Regions from separate parts of the Homo sapiens genome. Here regions 1 and 2 are each reported to be linked to region 3. Evidence: microRNA targets listed by miRTarBase, many of them from high-throughput screens and not tested one by one. Region 3 holds a microRNA gene; each other region holds the end of a gene's coding sequence.

Evidence for each region. Region 3 holds the annotated microRNA hsa-miR-2682-5p (CAGGCAGUGACUGUUCAGACGUC, at 6,132-6,154, opposite strand). A microRNA usually pairs through its seed, bases 2 to 8, with sites in the 3' UTR of a target mRNA and lowers its output. Matches are read on the target gene's strand: a 7mer-m8 pairs with bases 2 to 8, a 7mer-A1 pairs with bases 2 to 7 and ends in A, and an 8mer does both.
Region 1: the mRNA of CTDNEP1 is a reported target of hsa-miR-2682-5p. Seed matches in the 3' UTR shown: 7mer-m8 at 4,588-4,594.
Region 2: the mRNA of RASSF4 is a reported target of hsa-miR-2682-5p. Seed matches in the 3' UTR shown: 7mer-m8 at 5,419-5,425.

The regions. Positions count from the first base shown.
Region 1 is chr17:7,239,502-7,249,606 of GRCh38, forward strand. It overlaps CTDNEP1 (CTD nuclear envelope phosphatase 1), which reads right to left. Exons shown (of 8, transcript NM_001143775.2): 2 at 7,776-7,842; 3 at 7,563-7,681; 4 at 7,290-7,361; 5 at 6,753-6,869; 6 at 6,525-6,636; 7 at 5,050-5,134; 8 at 4,090-4,744. The coding sequence ends at 4,684. It overlaps GABARAP (GABA type A receptor-associated protein), which reads right to left and starts at 2,948. Exons shown (of 4, transcript NM_007278.2): 1 at 2,740-2,948; 2 at 2,100-2,178; 3 at 1,841-1,959; 4 at 507-1,418. The coding sequence starts at 2,829. The coding sequence ends at 1,353. It also overlaps a transcript of PHF23 not described here. RefSeq lists enhancers at 1-206, 334-423, 2,105-2,656, 2,657-3,208 and silencers at 1-33, 84-223, 2,821-3,010, 3,601-3,710.
Region 2 is chr10:44,989,765-44,999,869 of GRCh38, forward strand. RASSF4 (Ras association domain family member 4) reads left to right here. Exons shown (of 11, transcript NM_032023.4): 9 at 1,184-1,305; 10 at 2,141-2,238; 11 at 3,505-6,127. The coding sequence ends at 3,565. LOC124902530 reads left to right here and starts at 4,272. Exons shown (of 3, transcript XM_047426129.1): 1 at 4,272-4,407; 2 at 5,041-5,177. The coding sequence starts at 4,272. ZNF22-AS1 (ZNF22 antisense RNA 1) reads right to left here. Exons shown (of 4, transcript NR_126421.2): 3 at 9,553-9,658; 4 at 4,168-4,442. RefSeq lists enhancers at 1,238-1,929, 1,959-2,460, 2,461-2,960.
Region 3 is chr1:98,039,176-98,049,280 of GRCh38, forward strand. It overlaps MIR2682 (microRNA 2682), which reads right to left and starts at 6,176; the gene lies at 6,067-6,176. LOC124904228 reads right to left here and starts at 6,328. Exons shown (of 1, transcript XM_047437906.1): 1 at 1,739-6,328. The coding sequence starts at 6,215. The coding sequence ends at 5,694. MIR137HG (MIR137 host gene) reads right to left here. Exons shown (of 5, transcript NR_046105.1): 2 at 7,344-7,452; 3 at 6,833-7,221. MIR137 (microRNA 137) reads right to left here and starts at 6,996; the gene lies at 6,895-6,996.

The DNA of each region.
Region 1 (10,105 bases), not on the chromosome of region 3:
CTCCTCCTCCTCCTCCACCTCCTCTCTCCTCCCTCCCTCCTCTTCTCTCCCTCCTCCCCCCGCCGGCGCCGAGGCGCAGTGCACCAAGGGTTTTGTAGTCCGTCCGGGAACAGCGGAAAAGGGACCGCATGAACCTCCGGAACTTTGATTCCCAGAAAGCCACAGGCTGGCGCAGGCGCACCAAGCCGCTCCCCTCCCCCGGGGAGCGGCGGGGAGACCAGGAGCCGGAGGGGAGAGCGGAAGTGCGCGCGCAGGCCCCTGGGAGATGTAGGCTGGGCGGGACCAAGAAAGAAGAGGAAGAAGGGATTAGAACTCTCGGCCACCATACTGCCTCGTTCTGCAGCTTCTTTCTCCCCAGGAGGACCGCCCCACTTCCGGCCTGCCGGAGAAATGATTGCTGGGAGTTGAAGTATTCCTGGCGATAATGGCTCCCGCTCCCAGTCTTCTCCCTCCCTGATTCCACTCTGCCGGATCCCACACACCGGCAAAAGTCTAGCCAAGTGACATGCAACTGAGAACAGCCGTTTTACTAGCTTGCACACATGAAAATATCTTAGTTAGAATGTTCTAGCAAATGTGGATGTTCACCTAAAGCAGGTACTTCGGAACTTTCTCCACAGGAACCCACAGTAAAAAAAAATTTTTTTTTACATGAGCATTTTTAACATTTAGTTTCACATGCGTGTTATAAAACTAAAGTTTCAAGAAATAATCCTCAGTATTCCATTCCATCACAACAAAAGCACCCTCTTTTTGCAGACAGGGAAAAGCCCAACATGAACAGAATAAACCAAAATATACTTCTATCCCTCCAGCTTGTACCCAGTACTCTTCTTTCCCCACCACTGAAACCCACTGACACCTTGGAAAGACTTAAAATCAGCGGGACGAGGGGAGCAACACAAGGCAAAATTCAGTTCAGCTTGGTGGTTTCCTCTTTATTGATGTGCCTCCTACCTTCCCCCCACAATTTCAGTCCCTTCCAACTACCCCCAAAAAAGAAGGTAGTGAAAGGAAGGGATTGCTGGGGTTCTGAGCCCCTTGGGCAGTCAGAAAGGGAACAGAAACCAAAACAATCACTGGATGTGACACAGACTGACAATCAAGAAGTCTACAGCAGGATGGGAAAGGCGGGCAGAGAAAGGGGAAGAAAGGAGAAAGGAGAGTTACAAGATGCCAACTCCACCATTACCCCTCCTAAGAGAGGCTGGAGAGAAAGCCACAAACATTAAGAAGTGCCGGTCCTGAATAAGGGAGGTGGTGTTTGAGCTTGAAGGAGGAGGAGGTCAAGAAAGGGGGGCCACCTCTCTCTTTGTAGAATGAGACCCCCCTCCAGCTCAGGGGCAGCAGCTTCACAGACCGTAGACACTTTCGTCACTGTAGGCAATGTAGAGAAAGAAGTCTTCTTCATGGTGTTCCTGGGATGAAAGCAGAAAACTGTTCAGCAACTGGGCTCCAGTAACTTAAACCAACCACGACCCAGACACGTTCTTCTAGAACCACAAACCATTGCCTGACTCCTTCACTGACTCCAAGGCCTACCACACGAGCAGTATAATCTCTGCAGTCCTGGGCAAAAAGGCCTCAAACTGTTTTCTGCTGCTTTGGAATGGGGAGGGGGACTGGGAAGAGTCCCGAACAGATAGTTTCTCTAGCTCACTGTTCTCTTTCCTTCTCTCTACTCCTACTGTTCTGTCCAAACCCCCAACCCACGGCTATTATGAAACTTTAAGGCAAGCCAGGAAGCTAGTCCAAAACTACTGATGTAACAACACTTTCTTCCCCTCACGCTCTTCCAAGATTCCTCTCCAAAGCCTCCACCACTTCCCAGTCACCATACCTGGTACAGCTGACCCATTGTGGCACTGGTGGGTGGAATGACATTGTTGACAAAGAAAAACAAGGCATCCTCAGCTCGGAGATGAATTCGCTTCCGGATCAAGAAGTAGAACTGACCAACTGCAAAAGATACAAGATGCAAGAAAGTCACAGAGGTCAAAAATGCCCTCAAAAGAACAGCTGCTAGGTGGAGCCTCCTCCCGCAGAGACTGCACTCCCACCCACAGGAAGCAAGCCTGAGTCTTGGATCAGGTTCCCACCTGTGAGATCAGAAGGCACCAGGTATTTCTTTTTGTCCAGGTCTCCTATCCGAGCTTTGGGAGCCTTTTCTACTATCACCTGATAAAGAGATGAAAATTAGGAGACAGAAGGAATGCAGCCCCGAAGCTGCACCTGTCAAGAACTCAAGAAACAATATTCCTAGCACCTAAATCTACCCCAGATTCATCTCTTTGTCTTTGTACACGCGGTGCAGCACTGAGTCCCAGAGATCCTGACCTCACTGACTGGAGCTCATTTAAATATCCAGGATCCATCCCCCAATAGGGCGTCACCATAAACAACTATCTTAATCAGACGGAGGTGACTTGTTTGGGTCGACTAGTGATTCAATCTCGCAACCTTAGCTAGCTGGGGGGATGACCATTTGAAGCTCAGGCTGTCAAACTCTCTAAGGCCTCAAATGCTAAGGTTTCTCTCTCCTGTCCACATCCCTCTCAACCCCACATCCACCACTACCCCACTCCTTTCATCCTGGGTCCCAAGGACAGCAGTTTCAGGCTCGCTGCCAACCCCACCACAGCCAGCAGCCTGATCCCTGCGCTGCCTGTCCCGATCCAAGGCCAGGCTGTGGCGTCAGCGTAAGCGTCCCGCGCCCTCGGCCCTGGCTACTGTCCTCACCGGCACCCGGTCCGGGTATTTCTTTCGGATCTTCTCGCCCTCAGAGCGGCGCTTCTCGAACGGATGCTCTTCTTTGTACACGAACTTCATCCTCCCGGGAACCGGGCTGGACAGGGCTGGGCTGAGGGAACCCAGGGGGGCCGGGACGGGGGGCGGCGACGACGGCGGCGACGCGCGGGCGGATTCAGCGGAGCGATCCACGAATTTGCGCCACTTCCCTATTCACCAACCCCGCCCCCGACTATCGGGGACTGCCCCCCCCGCTAAGATACGCCACTACCTCAGCGGCGCTAACGCTGCTAGCGTAGCACCACCAACTGACCGGCCCCCTCACGCCATTAGCGTAATCGCTTTGGAATCAATTTGTGGGCTACGCAGGCGACGTAGCAAAGACGGTTGGCTTTTGCTCATCGAAAATTACTCTAAACCTATTCCCCAACCGTCCCCTCAAGGAAGCTGGGGCTGAAGAGGAGTAAAAGATGGTAATCATCATACGAGACTTGGTTCTCCAAGTTCCTTTCGTTAACAACGTAGAGGAACAGCAGGGACAATTACAAGGTTAGCTATTCACGAACCGTGTTGCTACGCTGAAGGCGGCCGTTGACACCAAAACAAAGTAGTACCCAAGTGGCGGAGATGATCTCCAGAAATAAGAAGTCAAAAAGAAAACAGATGTTTGGAGAGATCTACAGAACGCTTAAGTGCCAAAATGAGTAGACCAATAGGGACTGGAGAGGAGGTTGGAAAGGTAGGGACTACGCCAGCGCGGAGGAACACTGCGGGACTTGAGTTAAATCATGTGATCTCAAAGAGGGCGGAGCGTCACGTGGCGGGTGCGCGAAGTAGGGCCGGCTTGGGAGGGCGCCGGGGAGGCGGGGCCGGCTGGGCGACAGCTGGGAGGGGGACCGACGCCTTCCCGGACAGCGGAGGTCGGGGCGCCAGCCACCTGGGGGCAGCGCCCGCTTAACCTGTCCACGTCAGTGCCCCGGACGAAGCCCGGTTTCTCCAGCTCTACGCCCTTTGGCCGTCCAGGTTTCTCCTTTCGTGCTTCCATAGCCGGTTTCTCCTTTCGTGCTTCCATAGCCTGCTTCTCCGAAGGTGTCCTTCCACTCCCCACCAGCGCGCCCATCCTGTCACTCGGCCCTTCCCGCCAAAGCATCTGGTGTCAGCATTATTGTATCCCAGGCATCTGGTGTCCGCATTATTCTATCCCTATACTCAACGCCACCTTTCCCCCTGCCCCTTGAGTCCAACAGCAGTCTCTTCCCCCTCTGCCTGTGGGACAGGGTGCATGTGAACAAAGTCCCCTCTCTTCACTTCCCAAAACCCCAGAGAAGGACCTAAGGCCGCTTTGGTTTCAAAGTTATAATGCATGGTTTAAAAGAGAGAAAAGGAAAAAAGACACAAAGCTGGTTACAGGTCTGAGGGAGTCTAAGGAGAGAAAAATAGAGGGAGAGTAAAGGGGGGACAAATTTAGGGAAAATCCAGTGGCCCAAAATCCCAGTATCCCACCCACAGCCCAGCCCTTGGAGCAGGAGTGAAGAATTAGATCAGTTTTGTACAAGAGTTTTTTAAAAAAAATCAAATCACAACAAAGCTGACTTGGCTTCTCTTTGAGCCTCCTGGATCACCGTATGTCTGTCACTCTGGCCAGTCCTGCCTCTTCACAAACACTGATTCGGCTCTCCTAGGCTTCCGCCTGTGTCCCAGTCTGGGGTTTCCATGGAGTGTGAACACGAAGTTAAGAGTGAGGCTGCTTCAGAGCCCCTGGCCCATGTGTCCATCCAGACTCCAAGTGGAGTGTAGGGCTCCCAGGGCAGAGAGGGGTGGGAGGGGCAGACCCTGCCCAGGCAGTCCTCACATTGGACAGGGCATCAGACGGCATCCCAAGGGCTCGCCCTCCCTTTCCCCCCCACCCCAACTCAGGTGGAGGGGGAGCAGCTGTCACCAGAGCCGATGTTGGTGAAGGTTTCGGCTCAGCACGGAACGAACATCAGCGGTGAACCTGGGGTGACAATAACTTGCATTGGTAGAGTACCTTATAGTTCATACCCTCACAACACTCTTGTAAGGCAGCATCACTGGAGATGTGGGACCTAAATTATCACCATATTCATGATTAGATAGGTTCAATTTGCCCACAGCCTACTAGCTAAAGTGATGAGCTTTGAAGTAAGACGACCTGGGTCCAAATGTTAAATTCTTAAGGGAACAGAGTTAAAACAGGACAAACCTTTTTTATTCCCTCTGAGGATCCCCCACCTCCTCCTTTCTTGAGATATCCAAGTGTCCAGAGCCCACTTCCCTTACCTGAGGGCATCCAGCATTGGGAGCAGGTTGAGAAGGGCTGTGTCGCTGGGGTCACTGAACCAGGATTTGATGGGGATGGCATTGTCTAGGGTGGGTGAAAATGCAGATGAGAAGAAACAGAATTCAAGAGAGACGGTGTTTTTCTCTTCTTGGAGGGAAGGAGGAATTATTGTTAAAAATATATGCCTCCCACTACCGGAAGTCAACAACCTAAGTAAAACTTTCCTGGTTTATGCTCCGAAACTAAGTTTTAATCACCAGATCTCATACCTATTGATGCTTCTAGTCAAGCTTACTGCCATTGTGCCTCACTTGAAACACACTTGGCCAGGCGCAGTGGCTCACACCTGTTATCCCAACACTTTGAGAGGCCGAGGTGGGAGGATCACTTGAGCTCAGGAGTTTGAGTCCAGCCTGGGCAACATAATGAGATCCCTTCTCTACTAAAAATCAAAAAATTGGCCAAGGGCAGTGGCTTACGCCTGTAATCCCAGCACTTTGGGAGGCCAAAGCGGACGAATCACGAGGTCAGGAATTCAAGACCAGCCTGGCCAACGTGGTGAAACTCCGTCGCTACTAAAAATACAAAAAATTAGCTGCGCGTGGTGGCAGGTGCCTGTGATCCCAGCTACTTGGGAGGCTGAGGCAGGAGAATTGCTTGAACCTGGAAGTCGGAGGTTGCAGTAAGCCGAGATCACGCCACTGCATTCCAGCCTGGGTGACAGTGCGAGACTCTGTCTCAAAAAAAAATAAAAAATAAAAAAATTAGCTGGGCATGGTGGTGCACGCCTGTAGTCCCAACTACTGAGAGGCTGAGGCAGAAGGATCACTTGAGCCTGGGAGATCGAGGCTGCAGTGAGCTATGATCATGACACTGCACTCCAGCCTGGGAACAGAGTGAGACCCTATCTCAAAAAATAAATAAAAATAAATTTTATTTTTATTTATTTATTATTTATTTTTTTTGAGACGGCGTCTCGCTCTGTCACCCAGGCTGGAGTGCAATGGTGCAATCTCGGCTCACTGCAACCTCCGCCTCCCGGGTTCAAGCGATTCTCCTGCCTCAGCCTCCCGAGTTGCTGGGATTACAGGCGTGCGCCACCACGCCTGGCTAGTTTTTTCTATTTTTAGTAGAGATGGGGTTTCACCATGTTTGTTAGGCTGGTCTCGAACTTCTGACCTCGTGATCCGCCTGCCTCGGCCTCCCAAAGTGCTGGGATTACAAGCATAATCCACCGTGCCCAGCCAAAAATAAATTTTAAAAATGAAAAAAATGATATAAGAAATCCGACTTATGAAATGGACATATATGGTATCTCATTTGAAACACAAAAATAACTTGCATTTCGACTTACAGCAAACTAGGGATAATCTAGGGAATCCCAGCTCTCAAGGACCAAAGCCCAGGTCTCCTGCAAAAATACCTTCTCAGAACCATGTTCTGGTCCTGCCAGACTCACCACCTTCCCCCGTACCTGGATGGCTCCTGTAAGCCCCTGGGGAGTTATCCAGGATCACAATGCTGGAGAGGTCACTGTGGACCACAGAGAGGTCCTTGATGTAGCTGCCCAACTCCAAAGTGCAGTGCTGGAAGGCAGGGGATCATGTAGCAGGCCTCTCTCCAGGATACTCTCCTCAAACCCAGATCCCTCCCTGGTGGCCTCCCTCCCAAGCCACACTCTTAGACTGGGATTCTAGCTTACCTGTCTGTAATATCTCCTCTTAAGAATGCTTCTGCTATTGTCCAGTTTATCTGCCACAGCAGAGCCATAGATCTCCATGCTTGCTGTAAACACCACCAGCTCGTACCACTGGCTCACCTGAAATAGATTGGGGGAGAGGGCGATGCCATACAAGGTGATGATTCCTTTAGACATACAGTTATCTTTCAGAAAGGCAATGGCATAGTCCTTCAGGCCTTCCATCAACATCAAATGTCTCTGAGGACACGAAATTCTGAACCCCCAGCCCAAACCTCCAAACTCAGTGTTAGGCATCCTACACTCTTATGATTCAGAAATGCAAGAACAAAAGAGAAAGATGCCAGCGGAAAAGAATTACATCAGCACAACAAATGAACCCCAAGTACTGAAAGCCACTCCCCTACCATTACACAGCCTCCCCTCTAGAAAACTGCTCTAACCCGTTTCTCCTCACCCCTTCCTCCAAATCCTCCCAATTCCCAGAGCCCTAAAACCATTCCTTCATTACAGAGCTCCCTTTAGCTCTCCAAAACTCACCACTTCCAGGAAGAAATCCACATGGGGCCTCTTATGTACAAAAAACCGGACAGGATGTTTGTCTATTACCACCTACAGAGGAACAAGATGGGCTGGGGGATGTCATGACCACCACAACCCAGGCCTAGAAAACGCCCCACCCATCTGCTTCCCTCCTCCAGGCTGACACTGGTGCCAGCGGATGGAGACAGATGCTCTGGGACTGGGAAAGGGAGTCCAGGTTTGGGCAGAGGAACAGATGGAACCATTTCATCACTCCCCACCACCACACACCTTGAGGATGAAGTCAGGAGGCGTACCAGGCCGGACTGTGGGCCTCAGGACCCCATCATGGTGGGAGTGAATAAGTGTCTCATCCAGATCCAGCACCAGGATCTTCCTCTTCACCTGGGCTGAACCAGAGTGGGGAGGAATAATATTGACCGACCTCTGACCCAGAGCTAGCCCCTACTTCACCCTAAAGGAGGCTTCCCACCACATACTTACCTAGCCGATTCCGGGACACAGGAGATAAGGGGAGGATATCATATCGAACAGTTTGGTACTGAATTACCTACAAATAGCACAAAAGAGGATTGAAACCCTTGATAAGGAAGCCTTCCCCAGTAACAGTAACAGGGAGCACATAATGAACATTTACCACAGGTACTATGTATGTAATTTAGGCTTATTTCTTCTTCTTTTTTTTTTTTTTTTGAGATGGAGTCTCGCTCTGTTGCCCAGGCTGGAGTGCAGCGGCATGATCTCGGCTCACTGCAACCTCCGCCTCCCAGGTTCAAGCAATTCTCCTGCCTCAGCCTCCCTAATAGCTGGGACTACAGGCGTGCACCACCACGCTCGGCTCATTTTTGTATTTCTAGTAGAGGCGGGGTTTAACTATATTGGCCTGGCTGGTCTCAAACTCCTGACCTTGTGATCCTCCTGCCTTTGCCTCCCAAAGTGCTGGGATTACAGGAATGAGCCACTACGCTGGCCTTTTTCATTTAATCCTCAAAACAACCATAATATTACTGTTATACCTGTTTTAAGGTTAAAGAAACTGAGGCCACACAGCTAGGAATTATCTTAAGTTGTTTCTCTCCCTAATTAAAATGAAAACTCCATGAGAATATGATTTTGTCTAGATCATGGCTGTATTCCCAGTGCCTAGAACACAGTAGCAAAAGTGGTCAGTTGATATTAGTAGAATCAGCCAGGCGCAGTGGCTCATGCCTGTAATCCCAGCACTTTGGGAGGCCAAGGCAGGCGGATCACAAGGTCAAGAGACGGAGACCATCCTGGCCAACATGGTGAAACCCCGTCTCTACTAAAAATATAAAAATTAGCTGGGCGTGGTGGTGCGTGCCCATAGCCCCAGCTACTCGGGAGGCTGAGGCAGCAGAGTGGCTTGAACCCAGGAGGCAGAGGTTGCAGTGAGCCGAGATCGCACCACTGTACTCCAGCCTGGTGACAGAGCAAGACTCCGTCGCAAAAAAAAAAAAAAAAAAAAAAAAAAAAGTAGAATCAATGAAGTGATAGAGCCAGGATTGTACCAATGCAGTTCAACCCAAGAACGTGCCCTCTTTTTTTTTCTTTTTTTTTTTTTTGAGAAGGGAGTCTCACTCCATTGCCCAGGCTGGAGTGCAGTGGCGCGATCTCAGCTCACTGCAACCTCCACCTCCCAGGTTCAAGCAATTCTCCTGCCTCAGCCTCCTAAGCAGCTGGGACTATAGGCGCGCGAACCACGCCCAGCTAATTTTTGTATTTTTAGTAGAGACGGGGTTTCACCATATTGGCCAGGCTGGTCTTGAGCTCCTGACCTCATGATCCACCTGCCTCAGCTTCCCAAAGTGCTGGGATTACAGGCAAGAGCCACCACCCCCGGCCGAAGCTGCCCTCTTAACTGTGATATTATCCTGCTACACTGAACAAAGAAACGACCCCCACAACGCAACCTTCACCCCAAGAATTATTTGTAGCAACTACCATCATTGGGAACTAAGTGCCTCAGATTCCCTAGTGCACATGGAGTAGGAGTCGGGAGGAGATCCCTGGGTCCTTAATGGGAATATAGAATGAGGGAATCCAGAGGTTGTCAGGTCAGCTAAGTTCCTCTGGCTAGAAGCCACCAGGCCTATTTTAACCAGCCACCTGTCCACTTCTGTCCCTTCTAGCCAAGTCACAAGTTCAGAGAACCTCAGCCCTCTGAACAGTCTCCTTATCCTGGTACCCAGGGTGAGGCAAAGAACACTGGAAAGCCCCTGCCAGGCTGACTGGCAGGGTCTGGAGGAGGCCAGAGTGAAGTCAGGGCCGTTAAGTGAGAGGTGAATAAGGGACAAGGACGTCACCACCTCATCCAGCTCTGCTTCTCCAAGCATTCTCTAGGGGCTATTTCCTAATACGCACATCTCCCCATACAAAGCCTGGCAATTCCCTCTTCCACACTTTTCTTCAAAGGTACAAACCCTCTTCAGTGCATACCTAGGCCCCAAGCCACACCAGAACCAGGTTCTCCCTTCTAAACCCACAGGGCTCTCTCCCCCTAATCAAGATCTGCCCTTCTTTTCTCCCTGGGCCATGATGAGGTCCGAAAGAGCTCCAGTGTCCAGCCTTGCTATCTCGGGTTGCATATGCTGGGCATGTAGGGAATGCTCCAAGCATCTGCCAGAAGCGGGGTGGGGAAAGAAACCAGATTGGAAGGGAAGGGAGGACAAAAGGCTATGGGGTCAGTGCTGCCCAAAGGAGAGCAATTTTGGAAGTAACCTGTGGATGAGCTGAAGCACCACTCCGTATGCCCAGAAAACTGATGTGTTGGAGCGAGAACGTCAGAGAAGATG
Region 2 (10,105 bases), not on the chromosome of region 3:
CTACCTGTTCAGCAAGCCCCCTCCCCACCAACCACTGACTGTACTCCCTTCCAGATGGGCTCCGTGCTGGCTTGCCTAGTGGGCTAGGGCACACTGTGCCTCCCAGCATGAACATTTCTCCCCCACCCAAACCCAGGCACACTATGGAAGCCTTGAGGAAAAGAAAACATACTTTTGGCTTCGAATTTAAAGCACATTAAAATGTCCTTGGATTTTCTAGGTCGCTCAGTACATTAAGTTTAATTCTTTCAGGATTCTGAAGGAGAATCCCACCAAGCTATAGGAAGCCTCCCTCTCCGCCTCTTCCAGAGAAATGGATGGGTGGGTACCTAGCTCCTTGGCGCCGAGTCAGGAAGGGTGGGGTGCGTGTCGCAGTGCATCAGGCCCTGGCCCTCCCGTCTCAGCTTTCCTTTCTCCCACCCCTCAGATCTTGTTTCTCTTCAAGCTGCACCTTTGCTGAATGACACTGTAGGGGAGGAAAATTATCTTCTCTTTCTACCCATTTAGGTTCACTGGCTGGGGCCCTGTATTTAGATTAACAAAAGACAGATTAAGGAGAAGAACAAACAGAAGTTTGTTAACACTTGCATCATGCATGCCCTTTGGAATATCCAGGGATGAATGGTCAGAATTTGGGCTTAAATAGCATATTCACAAAAGAGCAGTAAGTTTTTAGAGAAGTGACAAGACAGAGGAGAAGGGCCTGAGTTTCTGGGGAGGCGAAGGGTGGGAAGGTCACCGCACGGGGAGCTGCGGGAAGGGAAGGGCTTCAGCGGGACGTGCTGTGCAGGTTCCTCTGGTGCCCTCTCCAGGCTGAGGAGGGGCTCGGGTTGTCTCTGGTGATTAACTCCATCATTGCCTAGAGAGGGACGGGGGCACACCTTGACAAATTTATGTCCTGCTTTTTGGCAAATAGGGGAGGGCAAAGAGCCTCACTTGTATCTTCTTCTTCTCAATTGCCAGCCGCTCCACTTAATCCTTATGCCAAAGTGGCAGATCTGGGGGCCCTGTTCTGCCTCCCTTCTGCATGAGCAGGAATCTCTCAGGGCAGCGCTGTTAGCGAGGTCTGTGTTCTTAGGGTTCCCTGCGCCCCTAGACGCACATTTTCTATCAGTTCCTAATCTGGAACAGACAGAGGTGATCCTAATCTCCCGTGATTTTTGTAAACCACCTTCTTTTTCAGAGCGGACAAAATTAAAAGACTGCGAGTACCCGCTGATTTCCAGAATCCTGCATGGGCCATGTGAGAAGATCGCCAGGATCTTCCTGATGGAAGCTGACTTGGGCGTGGAAGTCCCCCATGAAGTGAGTGGGGGCCAAGGCTGGGGAGGCCTGCTCTAGGGTGAGGGGTTCTTGGGTGACGGGGCCTCCCAAGGACTCCTGGCCAGAGCCCTGTCAGTTGATGTCTCCAGGAGCTCCACACTCTCCCAAAGGGCTCCCAGCCTAGCACAGGGAGGCGCCAGCCCTCCCTCTCCCATCAGTGACCGCCAGCACCAGCAGCTTAGGGGAAAGAAGAATTTGGGTCCTATAAAACCATGGCCTGTCCTTTTCCTCTAGGGAAGTAAAGTCTTTTCCTTCATTGGAATGTATTTTGTTGTCATTATGTGAGAGACCTATGCAAAGGCTTTTTAACTAGGCCCTACCTCGCACCTGTGGAAAACAGGGAGATATTTAAGTCTTACCAACAGCCTGAGTTCTGACCAGACAGTGAGTGCATTTCCAAACTCCTCTGCATAGAAGATGCTTACAGGGTTTGAACCTCAAGTAGGAGGCCTAGTGACCCCGTATCCCTCAGGCTGCTGCAATTGCATTCCATTGTTAGAAACAATGGTGCTCCCACCTCCCTACCCCCTAGCCCAGAGGGCACCCAATGTGACAATGCTGCTGTACTGAATGCTCTTCCTAATATTCAGTTTAATATTTCCTCCCAGGGATAACAGTTGCCTTTGAGATAGTAATAGGCTCCCGTCCTGGCATCTGTACACAACACAGCAGTGTGGGGGTGGGGTGGGAAAAGCGGCAGCTCCTTCTGTGGATACAAGATGTTGGCTGGATGGGCCACTATGGAAGCCTTGAGGAAAAGAAAACATACTTTTGGCTTCGAATTTAAAGCACATTAAAATGTTCTTGGATTTTCTAGGTCGCTCAGTACATTAAGTTTGAAATGCCGGTGCTGGACAGTTTTGTTGAAAAATTAAAAGAAGAGGAAGAAAGAGAAATAATCAAACTGACCATGAAGTAAGCAGCACTTAAACAGACAGTCATGGGTCCTGAACATCAGGGCAGGTCTGCAAAGCACAGCACCAGTGCCGGCTGGGAGGTCTCTCTCCTCCATGGGCACCAGTACCCTGGTACGGGAAGGCCTGCTAACCCTAGCTCCCCAGCATCACCCTCTGGCCCCCTGCTCGGTATTGCCACCACGCTGGGGTGACAGCTTGCCAAAACAGTGGGACACAGCCCCGATCACCCATCCAGTCTTGGCATCCTCACCAGCGCAGGCATGAGCTGCAGAACACCTGGCAGGAAAGTCAGGCAGGAACCCAAGTGGGCGCTGGGTCAAGCTTCTGAGTTCTGCTGGTGATGTGGCTCCAAGGAGCAGGCATGCTGAGGCAGACTTGGCCTGATTAGGGCCTTTTGTCCTAGTGGGAATTCTGAGCCTTCCCCAAAGTGGCAGATGCTGGAACTCCCAGCCTCAGCCGATGTTTTCAGGTGCAGAGGGCTAGTTCAATGAAAAGGTGAGCAGGTCTCACCTGCCAGCTCCTGGGGACACCACGCCAGGGTCCGGATGCATGAGTTAGCCAGGCTGTAGTCCCAATGACGTCTCCCCCTCAGCAAAGTGAAGTGTGGTCCAGGACTTGTGGAGGGCACCCCACCAGGGCTGGTGGGGAGGCAGCTAGGAAGGAAAGGGCAGGAGCTCACTGAGAGGGCCTGGGGTGTGTGGGGAAAGGATGGATGTTAGCCTCTGGTTGAATGACCCGTGGAAAGCCACATCCTCCACAGGCTCCTGTCTGTGCAGCCAGACCCCAAACAGGCAGAGGAGACCAAAGTCAGAGGGAATCTTCCATTCTGCAGTCAGTCCTGACCCCGTAAGATTTGAGAGCTGAAAGGGATCTGGGGGGCAACTAGTGGGTCCACTCAACGTACAGAGTGGACGCTGAGGCCCAGCACAAGGAAGGTTGCCGCATAGGTTATGGCAGAATCTGGGCTGAAACATGGGCTTCCCGATCTCTGCTCTACCGCCCTGTCCACTCCAGTGTGCTGTTGTCTGTATTAGAGTCTGCAATAGAAATGACAACACTCTGCTCTGATGCTCTGTGCAGTCCACAGCCTGGTTTGACTGCACCTCATGAGGCGCAGGCCACAGCCTTCCCCCTCCTTGGCAGAGGAGAGATGAGGCTGCTGCAGGGATCTCCTGAGCTGGCCATCTGCAGGTCCCTTGCTCTGCTGCCCACCTCCCTGCCCTGTCTGGCCTCAGTGAGTCCTCTTGGCGATGTCTCCCTCCAGGTTCCAAGCCCTGCGTCTGACGATGCTGCAGCGCCTGGAGCAGCTGGTGGAGGCCAAGTAACTGGCCAACACCTGCCTCTTCCAAAGTCCCCAGCAGTGGCAGGTGTACACTGAGCCCTGGTTGCTGGCCCCGGCCGGTCACATTGACTGATGGCCACCGCCTGACGAATCGAGTGCCTGTGTGTCTACCTCTCTGAAGCCTGAGCACCATGATTCCCACAGCCAGCTCTTGGCTCCAAGATGAGCACCCACAGGAAGCCGACCCAGGCCTGAGGGGCCAGGAACTTGCTGGGTCAGATCTGTGTGGCCAGCCCTGTCCACACCATGCCTCTCCTGCACTGGAGAGCAGTGCTGGCCCAGCCCCTGCGGCTTAGGCTTCATCTGCTTGCACATTGCCTGTCCCAGAGCCCCTGTGGGTCCACAAGCCCCTGTCCTCTTCCTTCATATGAGATTCTTGTCTGCCCTCATATCACGCTGCCCCACAGGAATGCTGCTGGGAAAAGCAGGGCCTGCCAGCAGGTATGAGATCTAGCCTGCTTTCAGCCATCACCTTGCCACAGTGTCCCCGGCTTCTAAGCCTCCAATATCACCCTGTGAGCCTCGCACAGCTCAGCCCCAACACAGAGGTGAGACCAGGAATAAGGCCACAAGTATCTCACTTTCTCTGCAGAAATCAATCTTTACTTCATCAGAGAGACCTAAAGCGATTCTTACAAGGAGCTTGCTGCAAGAAACACGGTCATTCAATCACATTGAGGAGGGTCCACATGGCATTGAGAGGGTGCTGCCCGCTCAATGCCCAGCAGCAGCTCTGGAAGGCAGTGCTCAGCCCCATCACCACTGTCCCGTGGATGCCTGTGTACCTCTTGCCTTTTCTGGGCTTGCGTTTCTCTCCTCTAGTGGGTGGGGATGACTTTCAATGACTTTCAATACTTCCCCTGAAGGAAGAATGATAAGGAGAAATGTCTGTTTTGAGGAAAGGGCTTTGAATTCCCCAGATACTGAACAATTTGTGTTTGTGACTGATGGAGAATTTCAGGAATGAATGAGAAAGCCTTTGCGAAACTATGCAACAGTTTACATCAGTCATGTGAAGTATTTGTCTAAAACAGAGCAAACTGAAGACCAAATTATTCTCCTGTTGAGGTCCGTGGATGGCAGATTTAAAGGGAAGAACCACAAAGGCTTGCAAAGATAGGAGAGGCTCCATCTCTAATGCATGTAGAAGCTCCTTACGGGTGCCCATCAAGAGCATAGCTTGGAAGCCACCATGCTGTGCGGAACTGCGTCAGGGCAAATGTCACAGCAGGATTTCCCCAACCCAGCTCCATCATCACAGACACAGAGAGCTGCAGGGGAGGCCTGCCCACTGTTTTGTCGACTCTGCCCTCCTCTGGCAGCATAGATCCTTAGGTGCTCAATAAAGGTGTGCTGTATTGAACTGAAGAAGTGAGAACCAAGCTTTTTTTTTTTTTTTTGCTTTCTGTGCATCCACCCTGACCCCCGGCTCTAACTTCTGAAACTCTTATCCTAAAGGATGTGTGGCCATGTTTGGCAGAAGAGCCACAACTCGCTGCTCTAGGAGCCGACATGACTCCTTCATTTCTGTGCATGCCCTGGGGACTAGGGTGGAGCCTGAGGAGAGGCTGCCATGGAACACGCAGGCGTCACTGGTGGGAGCCTAGAGGTGACCTGGATGATGAGCAATAGAGTCACCCCGAGTCACAGAATCTTAGCATCAGGAGGGCCCCAAGAATCTTCCAGGCCAGGGGCTCAGGTGGGATGGAAGCAGGGCCTAGGAGAGGGTACAAAACAAATCAAACAGGAGCTCCCAGGTAATTGTACTCCCAAGCTATTATTTACAATCTCAGGTGGAGGACAGCTCCTGTCCCATTGTTCAGCTGTAACTGAGTGACTGCCTTGTGCCAGGCCTGTGCTCAGCCCTGGAGGCACAAAGATGGAGCCAGTCTGTCCTGTGTCTAGGGGTCTTCTCATCAGGAGAAGAAGGCCAGACACTGGAAGGGTCAAGAGATCAGCTGAGCAACGAACCGGCAAAGCTCCTGGGAGTGAGGTGGAGGCCAAGGCAGAGTTGGCTAAGAAGTGCATGTGGCGTCACAGGCCAAGATGCACCTGCCAGCTAGGAGCAGGCCAGGTCCTGGCACACAGGAAGCCAGTGGAGCAGGAGACCCTCCCTAAGTACCAGCCTGTTTGGTTGGTTGGTTTGCTTTTGAAAGTTATTACAATATTATTTAAGGCCTTTTCGGATAAGTTCACTTTTAAAGTAGGTGTTATCAATCTAATTTCTGAACGTTATGGGTCAGAAAAATCACTAGCAAGTGGCTCAGAAAAAGGGAAAAGGTACACTTCTGCAATCAGCTGAGGAGTTCACACCTTTTTTTCTAAATCAACATCATATTTGCTGTTCAGAGGCAATCTGAAAAGCTGCAAATTCAGCTCACCTCAACCCCATAATTTCAAACGTTAGAGGCTGGTCTCTGTGGTTTCCTACTGGTTCCTGTGGGGAGCTCCCGCTTTCTTTCTACATAGAGCTTAGGGTATTTCTCATATGCCCCATTGGCTACCTAGTGTCTCAGGTAATAAACGTATCCGAAGATAAAGCAAAGATTGCTATGGGAGAGTGTTGTCTCCTAAAATAGGACTGTCTTGCCAGGCCAGGCCTCAAGAACCAGAGAGAATAATAAACAGCACAGGATGAAATCAGCATGATTGCAAAAGGACTGGACTCAGGAAAAACAAGTTTGTTTGCCCAGAACAAATTACCAGAAGGGATCAAAAACATCTTGTTTTTCTTTGGTGATAACCATATGCTACCGGATTGGAATGTTTACCAGAAAATGGAATAAAGACCTTCCCACTGGCAAAATAGAGCCAGGGTTCACCCAGGATACATCTGGCCCCTTAGTCCCATGGAAACAAGGCCCAAAGCTTATCCAGTCTGACCAGATGATTTGTGGAGGAACCAGCCCTGCAAAATGTGTCCCGGGTGTGTAGGACGCAGGTGCCTTGCAGCTGCGGAGGGGCAGCGGGATATCCTTGCCAGGTGCAGTGGTGGGCAGCATCCCCCTGCCCTCAGTTCCTCAGTGGTGATCAGACAGGAAGCTTGGTCGATCAGAGCCAAGCAACTGAGTATAAAAACAGCCAGATGCATGGGCTATATTTAGGCCCTGAGAGCTGCGATTGTTTGGGATCAGGCTAGCTGCTCACGTGCCCTGCCTGAGACTCACGTTGTGCAGGGTAGGGCCCTGTGCCCTCCTGGTCAACTTTTAACAGAGATGTTTTCTCAGACCTAGGAATGGGAACTCCCAGGGTTTTCTTTCCCAGAGAGTCCAAAGGAAACAGAAAGCCAAGTCTCAGGCTTGGTGGAAAGAACCATTGTTCAGGATCCCTGGGCTGAGAGTTCTTGGTGGGAGACGGACCACTGTTGTTACCGCACATGAGCCACACCTATAACTGCCTTTCTGGCACTTGGGCTGGGGATCCATGTTGCCAAACACAGACCCAAGGCAGCAGTGCTCCCTGCTGAGACAGCGTGTGTGTGTGTGTGTGTGTGTGTGTGTGTGTGTGTCTGTGTGTGTGTGCGCAAGCCAGTGGTGTGCAGGGGACAAAGACATAGGAAAATGAAACTGTCTTGCCAGGATTTTTCTCACCCCAGAAGACTCTTTTTCCTGGAATGAACCCTTCAAATACCACTGGGCTCAGGGACACACTGGTCCCTGCTGGGTAGTTTCCCAGAGATGTCCCAGCCACTAAGGGATCTGGCCTCTCTTGGGCCAGAATCCCCAGAAATATGTGCAGAAAGATGCCCAGACTGTGTCCACCCCCTGCCTCCCACACCCTTGTTCCCTTTCTCCCTTGTGTTTTGTAAATATCATGCGTGACCATTTTCAATAATTTAATTTGCATAAAAATTGCCTAGAATCCCATTTGGGAGATAGACTGTTATAGAGAGGTTAATAGGCTCTGGAGCCAGGCTTTCTGATTTCAAAGTCTGGCTTTGCCACTTACAAATGTGCATGACCTTGGGCGAGTTTCTTGCCTCAGTTTTCTCATCTGTGAAATGGGGATTCTGTGTGGAAGAAAACAAAGTGCTTTCTACTATTCTCTCACTCAGCAGCAATAATCACAAAAGACTTCTGTGACCAAACGGGGTGAGGGATTCTCCCCACACACCAACCAAGCAATCATTTCTGCAGGGACACCAGCTGGGTGTCCTCTAATTCAGTTTTGACACTATCTACTTGGAGATGGCATCACCTCCCATAGGTTGAGGGCTCAGTCCCATAAGATGGTCTCCACCCTTCCCATTAGTTACAAGCCCTGGCCTCTGGAACTTGTGAACTACCCACTTCAAGTTGGGATTCTCGTGACCCCCTCCTTGGGTTAATTTGCAAGAGCGGTTCACAGAACTCAGCGAAACACATTTCCTGGTTTATTACAAATGATATTCCAAAGGATATAGAAAAAGAAATGCATATAGTGAGGTATGAAGGAAAGGGTGCGGAGCTTCCATACTCCTTCCCCTTTGCACCCCCCGACCCCAGGTGGCACCCTCCAGTAACATCCATGTGTTCAGGTATCCAGAAGCTCTCTGAACCCAGTCCTTTGGGAGCTTTTATGGAGACTTTGTAACACAGGCATGATTGATTAATCCATCAGCCATTGGTGATCCACTTCACCTTCAGTTGCCCTCCTCCCCAGATGTTGATGGGGTGGAGCTGAAATTGCCATCCTTCTAATCCTGCTGTGGTCTTTCCAGTGACCAGCCCCATCCTGAAGCTACCCAGGGGCTGCCAGGCATCAGTCAACTCATCAGCATATAAAAAGACATCACTTTGGAGATTCTAAGGATTTTAGAAGTTGTATGTCAGGAAACGGGGAGAAGATCAACTATGTATTTCACAATATCACAGGATAATAACAATTCCTATCTCTTACGGTTGGTGGGAGGTACATTAGTCAACTTTAATGCAATAATACCACCAAGAATCTCAGTGTTACAAGAGCATTTGTTTCTCTAACATTACGTGGGACCGTTGTGGTTACATGTGAGCTTCTGTGGCTCTGCTCCATGTGTCTTATCATCCTGGTTCCTAGACTAAAGGGGCAGCCCCTACTTGGGACATGCTATTCTCAAGGCAGAGGGAAAGAGCAGAGTCCTGGCAGAAACACAATGACTTGAAGTTTCTTCTGGGATGTGATGTACCCCTTGCATCCAGTCACATGCGGTCAGCCAATTCAAATCAGTGGTCAAGTCAACATCAGTGGGACAGGCATGTGGTTCACCAGGAGGCACCGGAGTCACACCACAAAGTGCAGGGACCAAAACCAGAGAAGGTGGAGCAAACCCTCAGGAATAATCATGCCTCAGGAATCTCACGTGAGATCCTCAAATGCTGCAAACAGTGCCTGGCACACAATAAGCACTCAATAAGTGTTAACTATTATTATACTAACAGCTAGGCTGAAGGCATAAAACCCTACCTGCTTTCTCTCCCTGTCTTTTTCCCATTCTCCTTTACCCTCCTCTCCTTCATATATTTTTCTGGCTCTCCCTCCTCTCCATCCTTACTGCCCAGGACTCTGTCCACACTTAGGGACACACACCCCTTTATTTCCTGACTTTCGTCTCTCTCTTTTTAAAAAATCCATCCTCGTTTACCCAATGCTTTAGTTGACATACCTCTGGCCCTTCTATGGCTGGCCCAGTTGTTTTCAGGTATAGGAAAAAGGGATAATCCATCTTTATGTAGACATTAAAGGAGTTAGTTTTAATTAGTAACTACCTTACTAACAAAATGGCTTTTTAAAAATTATCTTTTTATTTTAGTGTACATAGAGCAGACAGTCCCAACGGGTCATGTTTGCTCCTGACGCTTTTCCTAAACCATTTCTAGATCTCTGGCCATTGCCCTTTACCCCAAACTCTCCAACCACCAGCATCAACCAACTTATAACAATTTAATAATAAAAGTAACAACGACTCTCATTTCTTCTGTGTTATACATTGTGCTAAGTGCCTTACATTACCTCATTTAATCACTGCAATAGTCCAGATACTCTCTAGATTGCGAGTGGAGCTTCTTTGTCCAGACCTCATTCAGCTTTGTGCTTTGCCATATGCAGAGACAGCTCCCTACAGAGCAGAAAGCCCCAACTTAAGAGAATGAACCTATGACTTAGTTTAGCCTCCACCAACAAACCACTGTATTACTTCAGGCAGGTCAGCCTCTCTTGCTTCAGTTTACTGATTTGCAAGACAGATATGATAATCTGTGCTTCATGAGACTATGGTGAAGATGAATAACCAGAAGATAAGATGTAAAAGTACTTTGTAAACAATAAGGCATCTTATAAATTCATTCATTCAACAGCTATTTACTGAGTGTCTGTTCCCTGCTGAGCACTGTTTTCAGCACTGCAGACACAATAAAGAACTAAAGAGACAGATCATGAGAGGCATCGGGTGCCACTGCGAGGTCCTTGGCTTTGCTCTAATAAGTTGGGAAGCCTTTGAAGGTTTTGAACAAATGAATGACATGATCTAACTTAGGTTTAAGAGGATTACTCTGGGGCCGTGAAT
Region 3 (10,105 bases):
AAATCAGAGTCAAAGTTTTCAATGGACATAATGTTTTATACCCATAATTAAACTGAGAATGGATAGTATGTAAACTATCTGAATAAAGCAATAGCTGATAAACCATATTATTTTAATTTTTAGAGGATGGGTGTATTATTTTGTGATCAAAAAGTCAATTTATATTTACTATAAATTGAACCTCCCAGAGAGTCACACCTTTCAAATAAAATTGTAACTTAGTCTGTTTTCCTAGTAAATAATTTTTTAAAACTAAAAAACTTACACAGATCTTTAGCTTTGAAAGTATGCCTATCATAGTAATTATTATATTGCACAATGTGCATTTCTATTGATTACTTCTTAAAACTTTATAAATTCTTACAAATATTTATACATTTAATATTAAATAAATACATTAGGTAACATTCACATGGACTAAAATTTTCTATTTCAATAGTAGATTGAACAGATTCTTGGAGTTTCAAAAAGAATATCAGCTTGAAAGCAATGTTCCCATGGATTTTTCCGTTATTTAAAAGTTATATCAAATAATCAGAGAGAATGTATTTTCCTTCTTGGCAAAGAATAACTGCACTATTAGTAAACAATTAAAGAATTAAATTTTATGTTAACATTAAATTAAACAAATATATGCTGTATAACAATCATTTTATATAATAGTGACTTTAAATAATTATGAAAAAATGTAAAATTTATATTCACGTATGCCCCAAAAGGATATCACTGCTTTCACAAAATTCATAAATATTTTGAGCACCTACTATGTGCCAAACACTGGACTAGGTATTTTAAAAGATTAACCATTTTAGAAGAATTAAATATCCTCGACAATTATTGGTCCTTTTAACAGAATGGAAAAAAAAACCAGTAATTTTCATGCCGTTCCAAATATTGTAATTGAATTTAATAGCATAAACATTTACACAAGGAGTAAACATTTTTAGAGGCCAAGTGTTCATGTTCATTCTTTATCCACTACAATCATATACATCAACTTTGAATGGAGTTGTTTGTGATTTGGCCTCATTAGGCTAAAATGCTTATGAAGATAGATCTGCGGTTTGAGTAGCTTCAAATTTATTATACAGATGTACATATACGTGTACTCCCATGCTAACACATTAGAATGAATCTGTAAAGCATTCTTTTGGGGCTTTTTTCCCTACTAAAACTTCAAATAAAAAATGAAGCATGAAAAAGCAACAAATATTTCCATGTGTTTCATGCTTTAAGAATTTAAGTAAAAATCTTAAGGACCATTTTATTATTTAATACTAAGACAAAATGTTGGTGAATACTTTTTAAAAGCTTCTGTCTTAGTTGTGATATCAGTTGGCCCACCATCTTTACATGAAATGAAGTGTAGAATTCATACAAAAAAAAAAAAAGGCTTTCTTTGAAATGGAATCCTAAAGAGGTAAAAAGGCCTTAAGCGAATCTAAATCTAGCCCTTCTCATGGATGAGACAAGTGAAGACCAGGCAAGCTGTGTGATAGGTCCATTGTCATAGTTCACAACAGAATCTGTACTCGAAAACAGATTTTCTAGTCTTATTCCAAAGTTCTTTCTACCACAGGATATACCTCACTCCTTAAGTATCATGTAATTGAGGGACAAAATGAAATTTGAGATTTCTCCGTGTAAGAGCCTCAATTCTCAAATTTGCTTTGTCTCAGTAAACACCAAAGCCTATATAAATAACAGTTATGGAAAAAAAAACATGAAACTGGATCCATAAAGTAATCATTCTATAACTTTAATTCCTGTGTAGTTATCTGTAAAACAATCCAGGATATTTGGAAGTCTTATCATGATATATTTCTATTACAAAGGAAAAGGTCTTTTTCTTATATCTGCTTCTGACAGAATAGTAGGCATGACCTTCATTCATTCATTCATTCATTCATTCTTCTTGGAATCCAAAAACTAATGGACTATTTGGCAGATATATAAAAAACTATTTTAAATGAGTAATTTTTAGTTTATCTTGAGACTTCTTTGAAACAGTTATTGAAATTGACTACACTAGCTTAGAGAGACAAAAATAGGCTTCAATTAATACTCACTCATGTATTGAATACAAATTTTAAAAACAAAATTGCAAGAAATATCAACTTTCCAATTAAAATGTATCATTTTTATAAAAATAATCTTTTCAGAAAAAGTGTTTCCAAAAAGCACATATTTCATTCAAGTTTACAAATAGACCCTACTTTCAAATTATGCAATTATGTCACTATTGTAATATAATTTGTCAACTTTTTAAAAAGCATATTATAGTACAAATTTCATTTGAACTGGAAACATAGTATTAATAGATTCCAGCAATATGTCTTTTTTAGTTTGTAATTTAACTGAATGAGATTCAGTATTGGTTTTAAATTAATAAAGGCAATAACCCTTATTTAAAATCTTTGAACTGCATGTTTTAGAACTCGTAGGTTTTTAACATTTGGTTCTAGTTTGATCTACTATATATATATATATTTTCAAATACTATGAGTCTCAAAGGGCTTTTCCACAAATAAAGCAAATGAAGTGTTGTCTTTACCCTTGCATATGTATTATAATATTTTAATTGTGTTGGAGATCAGACTGCCTTGCTTAGCTCACATTATTATTAGCCAGGATGTAACAGAACCCAGAACTCACAAGATACAGTTGGTAATAAATTTTTAAGCTGGTCAACAATACAAACATACAGATACACTGATTTTATTGTTAGGCTGCACTCAACAAACTCAACTAATTACTGGGTAACAAACACATTTCAAGAAATTTAAAATATTATATCTTTTTAGCTTATGTTTTTTGGATGAACTGCAGTGTTTCCTCAACTAAAATGTTTATTTTATACAATCATGCAAAATGTTTTCTAGACTTAAATGCAAGACTTGTAAGTCAAGATTTAAAGTATAAGCACTAAGATAAAAATCTGAAAACATTTAAAAAACAAATTGTACTACAAAGCTATTTGCTTAAACTCTACTTACCATTTGTGTATATAGCTGTACAGCTATCAATAACTAAATTCAATAGCTAAATGATTTAAAAGTCTTTAAATATTCTGATGTCATTATTATATTTTTTCTTCTTACGGAAAATATATCCAAAAGAAATTTACTTTTAAACAGTAAGTCTCCCATGCAGAATACACTACTTTCCAACACAGTAAGAACATCATTCTGTCATTTCCGTGATACAATGGTAGCTGCACCTGTACATATTGACAAGATGGTGAACAACTGTGATGGCCTTATGCTGTCTTTCCTTCTATGTCCTTAGCACTTCTCCTCTGTCTTACATAAAACACAAAAATGTTTCCCAATATACCCATCATCTCTAATTTTGTTGTCTATTTTTAAATTTGAAAATTTCTCATGACTAATGTGGAATATAATAAGACAAAAATTGATAATAGGGTTTTTGGAATATTCCTTCCATCAAAATGCTACTTCATCGTTGCTTGCCTTTGCTTGGACTTTCACTGGGACCTCTGTTCTGGTTCTAGATTGGCATTGCTCTGACACCAAGAACCACATCATTCTAGGGCTCACAATGGCCTCAGGGAAAGTTCATGGGGTTGTCATAATGCTCTATGGATCTTTAACCACGAATACCATCACCACTCCCCACAATTTTATTCAAGCAACAACATCAGAACAGAATTCACAAATACAAAGAATAAAATAAGCAAATTTTCTGAAAAATGCAGTTTCTATCAAGCTACTTACTTGGGACTCAGTAGCAAATGACCAATCAAGATGATGTTTCTTATGCTTATTAATGAATATTATAGTATAAAATTGACCATTTATAGACATTATATAAATTTAAATGGGCGACCTAAAATATCCCACTTATATATCATAAATTGTATTCATAAATTCTGAGTATTTAAGCAGGATTTATTAAAGTAAAACTAGTGGACATAAGTAATTTTCACAATTTGTCTCCCTCCTCCTTTACTGTGCCCTCAGTATTGTCAAATGAACAGCTTAAGCTGAATCCATGTTCCTTTTTTCAGGAAAAATTTCTATCACCTTTGTAAAGCAAAAGAAATATTAGAAAAGGCTGCTTACCCTTCTAGTCTTAGGACATCAATTGAAAAGCCATCCAAAAATTATGACTACTTAACACTACTTGGATCTAGCATGAAATGCACAAACAAGCATTTTGTACTTCTTTAATCATGGCTATGGACAGTGACAGGGCAAAAGCAGTCATTGACTAGTGGTGACATAATTTAAAATTACTTTTTCTGGGAATAAAAAAGCTGTCTTTAACAATAAAAATTAACTCCAGTAATTTCAACTTAATAAAGTTTTAATTTTTCCCACTTTCTTATCTTAAAAGGTGTGATGATGGAACATTTTCACCCCTAACTTAAGTAAGAACCAGTTCAGACTGACACCTAATGGAAACTATTATAGGAAAATAATTCTGCAAAGGAAAGAAAGCAATGAGATAAGTATTTAAACAACAACAACAAAAATACTTTCAGTTAACTATGAGTAGAGGTTTCCTTTAGATTTCATCACTAGCATTTGCAATTATTCCATTCTCAACATTATTCTTCCTCTATGAAGCAACTGCAATAAATTTGCACAAAACTGAATAGAATAGCTTATTTTTCAAAAGTTCTTCCTCATCTCCTCAACAAATGCCAGAGTGTTACATCTTCTGTTTCTCACAAACTCTGTCACCAGGACTTCAGCTCTCTTTCTTCCTTTCAAATCCTAAACACTTATTATTTAGCCAACCAGCATGAGGCCAACTTTCCAGAGACCACCTAGGAACTAGAGTATGTAGCTTCTACTTTTCTAATTTCCCAAGGAAACAATGCCACCAGTAGACATATTGCATTTTGTTAAATACATAACAAGCATAATATTTAAAAGCCCTAAATCACCAACTGGTAGATCCCTAGAGAAAAAAGGTAATTCATGGAATAATGAAGGAAAGAACAGGAGTTACATATTCTCTTGCTGGTGATAGAATGTCGAATGCAAAGACAGCATCTGTGTTTTCTTTCCTACTTCAACTCATTCTTAAAATGGACTCGCCCCCGGGAGCTTCTGAGAAGGGCTCCACCCGTTCCCTGCAGACGACAATGTTCTTTGAGCGCAAAAGCTGTGAGTATAGATACCCTGGGAGTAATTGTGGGATCAGACACAATGGGGTGGGATTAGGGGTAGGCAGAGGGTGTGTGTGGAGTACCCTTCACTGGGAATCCTAAATATTAGAAGAAAGGCGAAACCCTAGGTGGGGAAGCATGAGAGTGTGCCTGCTTCCTTCAAGACACCTCGGTGTCAGCCTCTCCAGGGTTCAGACTGCTCTTGTGGGCAAGAGCCCAGTGGGGCACACGCACTTCGTGCCTGAGAAAGGCCCATCCTCCAGGGGGAGAAGGTATCTGAGATGTAGCTCAGCTTAGAGCGGTCCCAGAGCGACAAGAGGGAGAGCTTCACAGGCCTCTAAGTTTATTTGATTTTTCTCCTGCAGTTTCCATTTCTCAGGAATTCAGTCTTCGTGCGTAGCCCGTGCACAACCAACGACCACCACGCAGGGAGGAAACCTGGTCTTAGTGTTTGGCCGCGCTAGTGGAATCTTCTGGGCGCCTGGTACGTTCTTGTCCCCAGCACTCTGTCCTTCCACCTTTGAAGCGCCTTGATAGGACGGTCCCAGATGCCTCACAAGAAGGAAAGGCAAGGTGCAAAGCTGGCAAAGCTGTGTGGTCCGACGCTGGCGAGAGCTGAGACCTGGAGCCCCAGCCCACGCCTTCCACTCTGGGTCATCCTTCCCAGCTTCATCTTGGGCATGCCAACTCCTGCCACGTCCGATTGTCCCCAGGAGTGCCCAGGCATGCTTGAGGGGTGTGGTGGCGGTGGCTTCCTCTTCGCTAGGAGGTGACAAATCCGTGTTGTTTTATCGTCCATTAATATTTGAAACAAACAAACAAACAAACAAACAAAAACTCTAAGTAGAAGGAGGGAGAGGCTCTCTCTTGCTCCCACGCCTTCGCAGCTGACCTGAGAGGGGGGACGTGCCTTGCGTTTGTTGGTGTTTGAGACTCGTCCTAAAGGCAGAGGCAGGGAAGACAGCGCTGAAGAGGCGTCCCAAAGAGATTGGACGTCTGAACAGTCACTGCCTGCCCCAACCTCTTTCAGGAAGGTTCCAGGTCTGTGCCACACTGCAACCAATCCGGTTCCCATCCTGTTTCTCCACCCCTTCTCGGAGAATCCGAAAAGAAAATATGCGTTCCTGAGAGACCCGCCACACTTCCGATCTGGAAGTTCCGCGGGGACCCAGCCCCCGGGCCCCCGCCCCCTCCCCATCTCGGCCGCCAAGTCTGGTTGCGGAGCAGCGCGGCCGGCCGGGGGTGGGGCTCCGGCACCGCCCCGGGCTCGGGATTCGCGAAGTCACGCGCTTCCGCAGGCTTGCGGGGGCACCTTCGCCCACGGACACGCCCTTTCTGCGGAGGCAGCCCCCAGCGACCCTCTGCCCAGCTTCGGCGCCTCACTCGCGACGCTCCCAAACTGCTCAAGGCCTTTCAGTCGTTCCCAACTTTAGAAAATCGCCCCGTCCGCGTCTCTCCCTCCAGCCGCACCCCACCGTGGAGAGGAGAGGAGCGGACTGGGAACGCCGAACCGCCCCGCAGGCTCGGGGAAACGGACCCCCTTCCGCTCCCCGCCCATCCCCTTCACCTCGCCCCCCGCCCCCTGCGCGAACCCATTTTCCAGTCCTGGTCACCAGAGGCGCAGCGCACAGCCTTTCCGGTGGAACCAGTGCGAAAACACCCGAGGAAATGAAAAGAACAAGAAAGTGCTACCTTGGCAACCACGGGCGTTTAGTGGCCAGCTGGTGGGCTGGGGAGGGCGGCCGCTGCCCCCCTGCCGCTGGTACTCTCCTCGACTACGCGTATTCTTAAGCAATAACAACGTAATCCGTATTATCCACCCAAGAATACCCGTCACCGAAGAGAGTCAGAGGACCAAGCTGCCGCTGCCGCTGCTACCGCTGCCGCTGCTACCGCTGCCGCTGCTACTGCCGCCGCCGCCGCCACCAGAACTCTTGCTGCTCGCTGAGCCCGCCCCTGCCTGGGGATGGGCTGAGCTTGACCGGGACCATAAATCCATAACTCGATTTCCCTAAAGAAGGATCCAAAGCTGTGCTCGGCTGCTTCCTGCCCAAATCCAAATGGCCGCTCTATTTCCAATTCTGAAAGACAAATCACAAAATCAAATACTTAACACAGAAGAGTGCTGTCTTTCCAGTGAGGAGGGAAGATGTGGCAAGGCTTTTTGGGCACAAGTGGGAGTGACAAGTAACCTTCAGTTTACCTGGTGCTCTCCCAGTGCTTTCCTCTGCACTTCTCTGCTTGGTACCCAGTCTGGTCTCGGCCAGTCCACTCTAGGTGGTATGATTGAGTGCCATGGCGGCCAGAGAACCCTGTAAGAGACGTGAATAGTTACCCACACAAATACAAATATATTTGCCTAGACGGCTTTGGGAAGAAGTGAGGCTTAAATAAAGATAGGTCATGCATGGGTGAAATTTTCAGTAGTGTGTTTTGGAAATGCACTTTTCTCAAGCCCAAGATCATGGAAAATAAACACTCATTCAATTTACTACTTGAAATCAAATACTTATAGATGTACAAAAATAGGCGTCTTTCCTTTGAAGGCCTTATAGCTATACAACATAATGATTTTTAAAGAAAAAAAAAAGCTTGAAGGCACACAGTAATTAAACCCATTTTCCATAGTGTCAAAACTCACTGAGTTGACAAGCTGGTAGACTTTCTATGATTTAAGCATCATTTTATATCACTACAATGTTTAATTTCATAGCACACTTTTAAAATATATACTATAAATGCATTGCTGTACAGCTGTTGTGGACACCTCTACAGAAAAACCTTTGAAGCTCTGTGTTCATAAATATTATTTTAAGAAGAAAAAGCCAATAAAAACTCATTTGCAAAGTGACTGTAATTTTGGCATTCAGAGAGAGAATCTCTGTGATTCTTTGATGATCAATATGGCTCTTACTGGAAAAGCTTTGTCTTAAGATCCTGCAGTGGATATTCTGATAATGGGGGTTTATTGTTCACTAAATAAAATGGACAAGTGCAACGTCACTACCCAAGACATGGTGTAGCTTCCTTAGAAAGTTCTCAATTTGCTTTCCCCTTTACTCTCAAATACATGAAAGTACATCCATGTAAGGGGAATGGGGGGGAATATGGAAACATGGCAATAGACATTATGATTTCCCAAATTATGTAAGTGCAAATAGCTCTTCATCAAGGAGTAATTATATAACAGAATCTCTCCCACTACCACAACTCATCTCTAACTGACCTGGTTGCAATTTAAGGTGCTTAGGTTGTGTTTGCTCTTATTTTTTTAAAAATTATAATACTTCTCCGGGCACACCAACTCATCATTTTCTTGACATGTTACTTACAGATGGAAAAATCAACATGAATTCTAGGTTTTATGAATAGATGTTTAATATATAATGTCTGAACCTAAAATAACTAGAAAGAAAACCAATATAGCCCAACTACCAGACTGTTTTACATTATTTTCAGATAACTCTTAAGTACACCACTTACAAAAGGACAGATACCAATAAAACAAATAAATAAGCACTATTTTCTGTTGTTACCTAACATAGGTATAAAGTGGAGCTTTTCTCTGGTGCTAGACAAAAAAAAAATTCAGAAAGCTGACAGGTTCTCTTCAGCTTGAACTCCTAGAAACAAAAGCCCTTAGGGAAAGTAATGCAATAGTCTATGAGCAAAGTGTACATTTGCTTCTGCACTCTTCTATTTAAATCTCAACTAATATTAAAAGGAAAACAAGAAACACACTATACAGATAGGCTTGGATTTAGTAAATGGAACGTTATAAACTCAAAAGGATGGTCAAGGGAGGCACACACACACACACACACACACACACACACACACACCCCAATACACAGGGCATCAGAATCACAGCATAAATACCCACACAGCTTTTCAATGCTTTCCAAGTAGTCTCCTTCAGTTTTGCTTCCTCACAATTAAAATAAAATATATACACACACTGACCCACAGACTCGCACGCTTTAAGAAACTAGAACAACGCAGTTGATATGCTTTCTTTCTACCCAAGTAGCAGTGCCAGCCTTTTCCCTACCTACCCAATGTTCCACCAGCTTCAGCACCTGGACGAATGGACAGCTCAACCCGGGCCGACTGCCGGCAGCACTCGCAGCAGAACTGACGCTCTGAGCTCTAACCAAAGCTCTCTCGTGCTTGAGCGGGGCAGCCTGACTTACGAGAACACCATTTCCTACGAGACCACTGCCGCTGGGTGCATATTCAATTCAAGCCTCCTTAAGCTGTCGGATTTCCCCCACCCATCCACCCTCCCCCCCTTCTCCACCCTCCACACAAAAACAAAAAAGGGAAAAAGCCCAATACCATCAGGGCGTTTGTTGATCAACTTACACTTCGCTTTTGAATATTTAGATACTGCTAGCGGAACAATATCAGCGGAGGCTTAGGTCCGCATTAAGTACCTTTGTTCATCGACTCCTGCAAGCCATGTTTATTAGAATCTACATTTCTCTCGCGCCCCAATAACTAGAGGTGTGTTTTGCGGGCAGGGGGCTTTCAGCACCTTTTGATCTCTCAAGGCCACCGCGACTGATTGACGGTTCCCAGTACTTTCCTATGCTATCCCCCATACTCCAACACCCATCCCAGTTAATCGCTTCGCAATTTGCAACCAAAAATACATAAAGAAACGCGACAAAGCAATGGGTTTGAGGAAATAAGCCAATTAAGCTAAAGCTGAAATGCCTCTCTCTCTCTCTCTCTCTCTCTCCCCCCCTTCTCCCTCTTTCTCTTCCCCCTTGACTCCCTCCCTCTCCCTCTCTCCTTCCCTCTCAAGTAGAAAGGGGGAAACACCAAGGAGAGAGAAAAAATCGGGAGGAGGGTGGTAGTCGACTCTTACAGTCAATGGAAAAAGAGTATACACATCTTTACTGAATAATACTCTCGTTCTCAGACAAAAAGAAACACATTTTTCGATGTAAACATAGTCTG